Linked DNA regions of Homo sapiens: region 2 is linked to region 1. A link means that fine-mapping ties the variant in region 1 to the expression of a gene that starts in the linked region. Tissue or cell type: whole blood. Region 1 holds a variant in brackets; the other region holds the start of a gene. All regions are shown on one strand. Distances are between the middles of the regions.

Region 1 (4,393 bases):
TCTTCTGTCTCAGCCTCCTGAGTAGCTGGGACTATAGGCGCGTGCCACCACGCCCAGCTAATTTTTGTTTTTTAGTAGAGGCAGGGTTTCACCATGTTGGCCAGGCTGGTCTCAAAGTCCTGACCTCAAGTGATCCTCCCCCATCAGCCTCACAAAGTGCTGGGATTACAGGCATGTGCAGCCGCGCCCCGCCAAAAATAATTGTTTTTAAGGATTATTTTTCTTGTTTCTTTTCGTATCATCTGCTGAATTTATCACATTTTCTTTGTCCCATTTTTTTTTTGCAGTTGTGGTTTGCAAGTTATGTATGCTATTTTTGTTATTCTGCTAGTTATCCTTAATTTTTCAATGTTATGCATGAGCTTAGTGGAACAGCCAAATCATCGAATTAGTCTTGTTATGAGAAACAGAAATCTCCATCCTCCCTCTACCATCTCCTTCTCCCCAGAGGAAATCACTCTTATTCCTTTTTTTCTTTTTTTTTTTTTTTATTTTGAGACGGAGTCTCACTCTGTCACCCAGGTTGGAGCGCAGTGGCACGATCTCAGTGCACTGCAACGTCTGCCTCCCAGGTTCAAGCAATTATCCTGCCTCAGCCTCTTGAGTAGTCGGGATTACAGGCACTCGCCACCACGCCCGGCTAATTTTTGTATTTTTAGTAGAGATGGGGTTTCGCCATGTTGGCCAGGCTGGTCTTGACCTCCTGACCTTCAGTGATCCATCCGTCTCGGCCTCCCAAAGGGCTAAGATTATAGGCGTAAGCCACCGTGCGCGGCCTCTTTTTTTTTTTTTGAGACAGAGTCTTGCTCTTGTCGCCGAGGCTGGAGTGCAGTGGCGCCATCTCGGCTCAATGCAACCTCCACCTCTGGGTTCCAGCAATTCTCCTGCCTCAGCCTCCCAAGTGGCTGGGATTACAGGCATGCGCTGCTACGCCTGGCTAATCTTTTGTATTTTAGTAGAGACGGGGTTTCACCATGTTGCCCAGGCTGGTCTCAAACTCCTGAGCTCAGGGAATCCGCCCGCCTCGGCCTCCCAAAGTGCTGGGATTACAGGCGTGAGCCACTGCACCCGGCATAGGCCTCTTATTCCTTTTGATGATTCTTCTCATATTTACTCCTTTATCTCTAAATATTACACATATATTGCTACTTCTTGATCATTTTCAATTTTAGTTATCATCTGTTGATTTTCAACCATAGAGGATGAAGACTGAACTCTTTCACTATCAGTACACATTCACACACATACGCACACACACATGCACCTTCCCAATTCTCCCAAACTGGTAGGAGAATGAATGAATACATTTTGGTACATTTGCACAATGGAATATTATACAGCTTTGAAAGTGAATGAATTAAAGAACCAGGGAACAGCAAGTATGAATCTGGATGGTATCATAATGAGTGGAAAAAGCATGTCTCAGGTGACCACACAGAGTGATACCCTTTTTATAACATTCTAAACCAAGTGAAAGGAAACAATTCATTGTTCAGGCCCCTATAAATGTGATGAAGCTGTTTTTAAAAACCAAAAGGGCCTGATGCTGTGTCTCACTTAAGGCCATGATTTCAAGATCAGTCTGGGCAATATAGCAAGATTCCTTCCTACCAAAAAAAATTTTTTTAAATTAGCTGTGCGTGGTGGTGCACACCTGTAGTCCCAGCTACTCTGGAGGCTGAGGTGG[A/G]AGGATTGCTTAAGCCCAGGAGGTGGAGGCTGCAGTGAGCTATGATCACACCACTGAATTCCAGTGTGTGTGACAGAGTGAGACCCTGACTCATAAAATGAAATACTTAAAAAAAAAAAAAAAAAAAAAAAGAAGAAGAAGAAGAAACACCAAATTTAGGATGGTGGTTATCTTTAGTTGGGGGAGGCTGGGAGATGGGAAAGGCAAGAAGCCCATGGATATTATTGGCTAGTTGGGCTGTGGATTCAAATGAGGGTTCATTATATAAATAAATGCATGCATAAATGCACACATAAGCAAATCAAAGTAAACAAAACGAAAGAGATAAAGCATGAGCTGAACAATGATAATGTGTTCTTAACTACACAGACTTCATAGCAGTGCTGCGCATCATGGTAAAAATTCTGGAAATTTTTATCAAATTAAATTGCTTTGAAAATAAACTTCCCCACCTCCACTTTCTCTGTTTCTTCTTTCTTAACTGCTTATTATTTGACCAGTGGACCTCCTGTATTGATTTTTTTTTTTTTTTTTTTTTTTTTTGGCAAAGTCTTGCTCTGTTGCCCAGGCTGGAGTGCAATGACACGATCTCGGCCCACTGCAGCCTCTGCCTCCCAGGTTCAAATGATTCTCCTGCCTCAGCCTTCCAAGTAGCTGGGACTACAGGTGTGTGCCGTTATGCCTGGCTAATTTTTTTTGTTTTTTTTTTGAGATGGCGTCTCACTCTGCCGCCCAGGCTGGAGTGCAGTGGTGTGATCTCAGTGGTGATCTCAGCCCACTGCAACCTCTACCTCCCAGGTTCAAGTGATTCTCCTGCCTCAGCCTCTTGAGTAACTGGGATTACAGGCATGTGCCACCACACCCAGCTAGTTTTTGTATTTTTAGTAGAGACGGAGTTTCACCATGTTGGCCATGCTGGTCTTGAACTCCTGACCTCAGGTGATTTGCCCGCCTTGGCCTCCTGAAGTGCTGGGATTACAGGTGTGAGCTACCATGCCAGGCTTGATTTTATTTTCTATTTTCTCTTCTATTTTCCATCTCTTTGTCTCTGTCTCTTTGCTCTATTTTCTGGGAGATTTCCTCCACTTCAATTCCAACTTTTCATTTCTACCGTCATGTTTTTAATTTCCAAAAACTCATCTTCAGAAAATTCCTGAATGTTCCTTTTCTATGGTATCCTTTCTTTGCAGTATATCTGCCTCCAACTCCTGCTCTAGGACTCAGTCTTCCTGGGTATGCTGCATCATTTACCAGCCGTCCATCTATTTATTGTCTTACTATTGTCCTCTCCACCATTCTCCACTTCTTTATGGGTATATGTCTCTTAAACAATACTTTACCATAATTTAATTGTTTTTTCAGGAAGTTCTCTACCCTGAAATTTTTATGTAAATATTTACAATTGGCTGGGTGCGGTGGCTCACGCCTGTAATCTCAGCACTTTGGGAGGCTGAGGCAGGCGGATCACTTGAGGTCACAAATTTGAGACCAGCCTGGCCAACACGGTGAAACCCCGTCTCTACTGAATACCCAAAAATTAGCTGGGCGTGGTGGTTTACGCCTGTAGTCCCAGCAATTTGGGAGGCTAAGGCAGGAGAATCGCTTGAACCTGGGAGGCAGAGGTTGCAGTGAGCCAAGATTGCACCATTGCACTCCAGCCTGGGTGACAGAGCAAGATTCGGTCTCAATAAATAAATAAATAAATAAATAAATATTTACAATGTATTTATATATCAACCTCTAGATTTTAATAAGAATCTATATCGTACCTTCAAATAAAACAAGAAATCTTTTACTCTCTTTCTTCCCTCTTTCATTTATTCTCCTCTTCCCACCTCCCATGTTGAAATAATCAGAGATTCCCATTGCAGAGTTTTGTTTTGTTTATTTTTAATCCACACCTTCTTGGACATCAAAAAGTTTTACTGGCTTCTTTACCCACCACTCCTTATATCTCACATCTCCCTCTTGGATTCTGTCTTATCAATTGCTGCATTAAAAATTATCAATATTTGGCCAGGGATGGTGGCTCATGCCTGTCATCCCAGCACTTTGGGAGGCTGAGGCGGGCGGATCACAAGGTCAGGAGATCGAGACCATCCTGGCCAACATGGTGAAGCCCCATCTCTATTAAAAGTACAAAAATTAACTGGGCGTGGTGGCACGTGCCTGTAATCTCAGCTACTCAGGAGGCTGAGGCAGGAGAATCACTTGAACTAGGGAGTTGGAGGTTGCAGTGAGCTGAGATCGCGCCACTGCACTCCAGCCTAGGCGACAGAGTCAGACTCTGTCTCAAACAAAAACAAAACAAAACAAAAAATTATCAATATTTAGTGGCTTAAAACAAAATATGGCTGGGCGCTGTGGCTCCTTCCTGTAATCCCAGCACTTTCGGAGGCCGAGCCCAGTGGGTCGTTTGAGCTCAGGAGTTCAAGACCAGCCTGGGCAGCAAGGCAAAATTCCTGTCTCTACAAAAAATACAAAAATTAGCTGAGCAGGGTGGTGTGCACCTGTAGTCCCAGCTACTCAGGAGGCTGAAGTGGGAGGATCGCTTGAGCCCAGGAGGAGGAGGTTGCAGTGAACTGTGATTGCACCACTCCACTCCAGCCTGGTTGACAGAGTAAGACTCTGTCTCAGGTAAAAAACAACAACAACAACAAAAAAGAAACATGTATTATTTCACAGTTTTCCTGGGCCAGGATGCAA
Region 2 (4,393 bases), 31 kb after region 1:
TGGTACCTTGTGGTTTATAATTTAATATAGAGACATTATTAAACTGCAAAATACATGGAAGAAAGTCCAACAAAATTCTGGGGTTTTTTCCCGTGATGATTGATGCTTTTTAGGAAATAAATGTCAAAACCTTTCCAAAAATTTTCCTTTTCTTCTTTTGGGTTCCTCTGTCTTGCTGGTGCCTGGCCTGCAGATTGTGCCGATGGGGTGAAGTTGCAGAGCCTAATAAGCAGATGACTCTTCCTGAGAGGATTTAGAGCAGCCCTGTCCAATACAACTTTCTGCAACAAAGAAATGTTCTGTGTCTTGTAGTCGCTAAACACACGTTGCTATTGAGCACTTAAAAATGTGGCTAGTGAAAGTGAGGAATTGAGTTTTACATTTAATTTAGGTTTAATCAGTTAGAATCGAAATTTAAGTAGCCACATGTGGCTAGTGGCTACCATGGATGGCTGTGCAGTTGGAGCCACAGTGAGGGGGAACGTGACACAGAAAAGGGAAAGAGGAGGAGGACATGCCAGCCAGGTGGCTGTGAGCAGCTGGAGGGTTTTGAGCAGAGAGGGCCAAAGGACAGTTCTACCCAGAGGGGCTTTCCAGTAGGGCTTTTCTATGTTTTTCCTTCTCAGACATACACCGGGCAGCCAGGTAGGCCAGCTAGGAGTGGGGCTGACTCATCCATTAGGCCCATCATACTTTTAGCGGTCCACAAAATGTTTTTATTCTTTTAAAATTTAAATTTAATTTCATTAATTTTTTTTAATAGACAGGGTTTCGCTATGTTGCCTAGGCTGGACTCAAACTCCTGGGCTCAAGTGATCCTCCCACTTCAGCCTCCTGAGTAGCTGGGACTACAGGTGCTCTTTCTTCCTAAAAATATGTTTAGTAATGGATGATTGGATGCAGAAAAAAAAATATATGTTTAGGTTGAAGAAAACACTTTAGACTGGGAGCAGTGGCTCAGGCCTGTAATCCTAGCACTTTGGGAGGCAGAGGCAGGTGGTGACATGAAGTCAGGAGCTTGAGACCAGCCTGGCCAACATGGTGAAACCCCATCTCTACTAAAAATACAAAAATTAGTCGGGTGTGGTGGTGAGTGCCTGTAATCCCAGCTACTCAGGAGGCTGAGGCAGGAGAATCACTAGAACCTGGGAGGCAGAGGTTACAGTGAGCCAAGATTCACCACTGCACTCCAGCCTGGGCAACATAGGAAGACTGTCTCAAAAAAAAAAAAAAAAAAATATATATATATATATATAATTCATATATTCATCTTTATGCCAACCCAGTGGTAAGATAATAATTTTTTAAAAAATTTTTAATGGAGAAAGGGTCCTTTGAAAACAAAAGTGCCTAGGACCCAAGAAAGTCATTGTCTGTGTGTGTGTGTGTGTGTGTGTGTGTGTGTGTGTGTGTGTAGCAGGGAAGGGAGAGGGTGCTTTCTTCTTCCAACATTGACAGCTCATGCTAGACTCCTAGGCACCTGCCTGGCCACCACCCCCTTTAAATGCCGCCCCCTCTCCCGGGGTACACCTGGCCTCCCTGAATGGGCCCACCTGCCCCGAGGCCTGGCACGAAGAAGCCAAACAAAAGAACAAAGATTCCTCAACAATCCCAGGGTCAGAAGAATCTTCTGTACCAGGCTTGGAAAATGCACCTGCGGACTATGACATACTTGGGCAAAGGGCATTGTGGGGCCAGGGAGGAGTTCAGGAGCTGTGCAGGAAGAAGGAGGGAGGGCAATGCTATGTTGTAGAAAGGGTGAGCTCATTAAACTTTACAATCCCCCTGATACTGACCCCATTTTACAGACGAAGAAGCATGGGCTCAGAGAGGTTGAGGAGCTTGCCCAAGCTCACAGCTGGGATTCAAACTTAGGCGTCTTTGGTCCGACACCCATGCCCCAGCTCCCTCGTCACAGATCCCTGGGATACCTGACTCAGCCATTGTAGGGCCGCGGGCGGGGCATAATGGACAGCTTCTAAGCTGACCACCCAATCCTCCCCAGTGGCTGTTCTCCATTCCTGCTTCCCAGAAACCCATCCTTCCCGGGCTGATCCTACAAAGGATCTTCTATAATAGGATCTTGGGGCCTCAATTTCCCTTTTGTGCGTGTGCTGGGGCAGGGATCTTCCTCTAGGAATGAGGAAGAGAGAGAGACAAGAGAAAAGCATGGCCTTTCTGCCCCACTGTGCTAAGCCCCCAGCCAGGGTCCTCCCGGAAGCCCAACTCCTGCCGCGCGCGGCCTGGCGTGCAGGAATGGAGCTCGGTCCCTTTAAATCCCGCCGAGGAACGCCTGAGGGCCGGGCCGCGCCATTCCCGGATCCGCCGGCTGGGAATCGCGGGTCCCCGCGCGTCCTGCAGCACTTCCCGCGCCGCGCCCCCAGCCCAGTGCGCCGGCTCTGTGCCGGGGTGCCCGGGCGGTCGGGAGAATGAGCCGCATCTACCACGACGGCGCGCTCCGGAACAAGGCGGTGCAGAGCGTCCGGCTGCCAGGGGCCTGGGACCCCGCCGCCCACCAGGGGTAGGCCTGGGCTCACGGCCTCGGGTCGGCCTCCCCTGCCCCGGCTCGAACCCCGCAACAGGATCGGGTGGGGGGGTGGGATGCGGGTGGGGGAAAACTGGGGTTGCCAAAGCCGCCTCTCCGCCTTCAGTCCGCCCCTCCAGTCCGCCGCTCCCGGCGCCCCTGCCGCCGCGCCCGCCCAGCGACCCCATGACACAGATCGGCTTAAAGCTCCCCGCCTGTCCGCCTGCCCTCGAGAGAGGGTCCCGACCCCCAGACAGGTCTCCGAAGGCTGGGCTTCGCCTCACGCCGACCTCCGGCCCCACCCCACCCGCGTAACTATAAACTCCAGCTACTTGCCGCGCTGCTTTTGCACAGACTCATGCCCTGCCCCAGAAGGGACAGTGGCCGTGCTGTGGCGGGAACAGCGGGCGGGCTGGTCCAGAGCAGGGCCTGCCTGGGTGAGGAGGATTTGGAGGGCCAGGCCCTGTCGTCACAGGGTTATGAGGCCGAAGGGACCATTCCATTTACAACTGCGCTGAAGAATTGTGCTAAGTGAAATAAGCCAGATACAGAAAGACAAATACTGTGTGATCTCGTATATGGAACCTATAAAAGCGTTGAACCATAGAAACGGCAGAACAGACCAGGCGCTGTGGTTCACGCCTGTAATCCCAGCACTTTGGGAGGCCGAGGCGGGTGGATCACTTGAGGTTAGGAGTTTGAGACCAGCCTAATGGTGAAACCCTGTCTGTACTAAAAATACAAAAATTAGTCGGGCGTGGTGGCAGATACCTGTAATCCCAGCTATTTGGGAGGCTGAGGCATGAGAATCGCTTGAACCTGGGAGGTGGAGGTTGCAGTGAGCCGAGATTGTGCCACTGCACTCCATCCTGGGCGATGGAGCAAGACTGTGTCAAAAGAAAAGAAACAGTAGAACAGTGAACAGTGATTGCCAGGGGATAGTGGATGGGGATGGGGTAATGATCAAAGGTACAAACTTTCAGTTATAGAATAAACAATTTCTGGGGACCTAATGTACAGCATGGGGTCTGGTGGGTGTGTTCATTAATCTGTGGTAATCATTACATAGTGTGTACTTAAATCATCACGTTGTGCACCTTGAATATATACAGTCTTTTGTCAGTTAAATATTTAGAAAAATAATTGTGGGGGGTGGGGAAGAATTGGATAGAGACCAGCTAGGTAGAGTTTTCACTTCCCACTCCCATCCCTATTCCACTGTCATCTTCAGCTGTCCCCATGCTTCTCCATTTCTGTGGATGCAAAAAAGGAAGCCTCCACGTTCTGCTTTTATGAAAACCAGAGTCGAGAAGCCAGGGGTCCACTTCCCCTCAGTGAAGGACCGTGTGATCTTGGACTAGTCTCAGACTTCTGAGTTTTGGTTTCTTCACCTCTCAGTAATAACCATTTCCTCGGGTTAATGACCACCTGGATATGAATGAGAAAAGGAATATGAGAGTGTTTAAAAACAGGTGGAAAGGGAAAATAGTTTATTGCAGCTTAGATACCTACCCTCACATTTGGACCAATAAAAAAGTAAAATCTTTTGTATTTAGTAATCACTTAATAGCTTACAAAACACCTTCACACACATGATCTTGTGTCAACATCAGAGGAGCAGAGTGAGGCAGCTGTTTTCCTCCCCATTTTGTAGATAAGACTGAGGCTCTGGTTCCAGTAACTCCCAGTGGCCTTGTAGGAGGGGGCCATAGCTTGATCTTAGGGCAGCCTGACAAGGTTCCTCCTGGCATCTGGGCAATGCCCCAGCCTTTGGGACCCTTTGGAGATCCCTATGTCGGAAGCACGGGGAAAGGAGCTGCTCAGTACCCAGCCTTCTCAGGGCTGGGTAAATAGGAGACACGGGTGAGA

Evidence for each region. PIP is the estimated chance that this variant, and not a neighbour inherited with it, causes the effect. A credible set is the group of variants that fine-mapping cannot tell apart.
Region 2: ARPIN starts here. The variant in region 1 is the best candidate, but not a certain one, in a credible set for the expression of ARPIN in whole blood (INTERVAL, PIP 0.68).

Annotation. Positions count from the first base shown.
Region 1 is chr15:89,941,940-89,946,332 of GRCh38, reverse strand. No RefSeq gene overlaps it. Among named protein-coding and RNA genes, the nearest start is that of ARPIN-AP3S2, 31 kb to the right of the region's middle. The variant A/G (reference allele first, on the strand shown) is at 1,688.
Region 2 is chr15:89,910,872-89,915,264 of GRCh38, reverse strand. It overlaps ARPIN (actin related protein 2/3 complex inhibitor), which reads left to right and starts at 2,313. Exons shown (of 6, transcript NM_182616.4): 1 at 2,313-2,521. The coding sequence starts at 2,430. It overlaps ARPIN-AP3S2 (ARPIN-AP3S2 readthrough), which reads left to right and starts at 2,313. Exons shown (of 10, transcript NM_001199058.2): 1 at 2,313-2,521. The coding sequence starts at 2,430.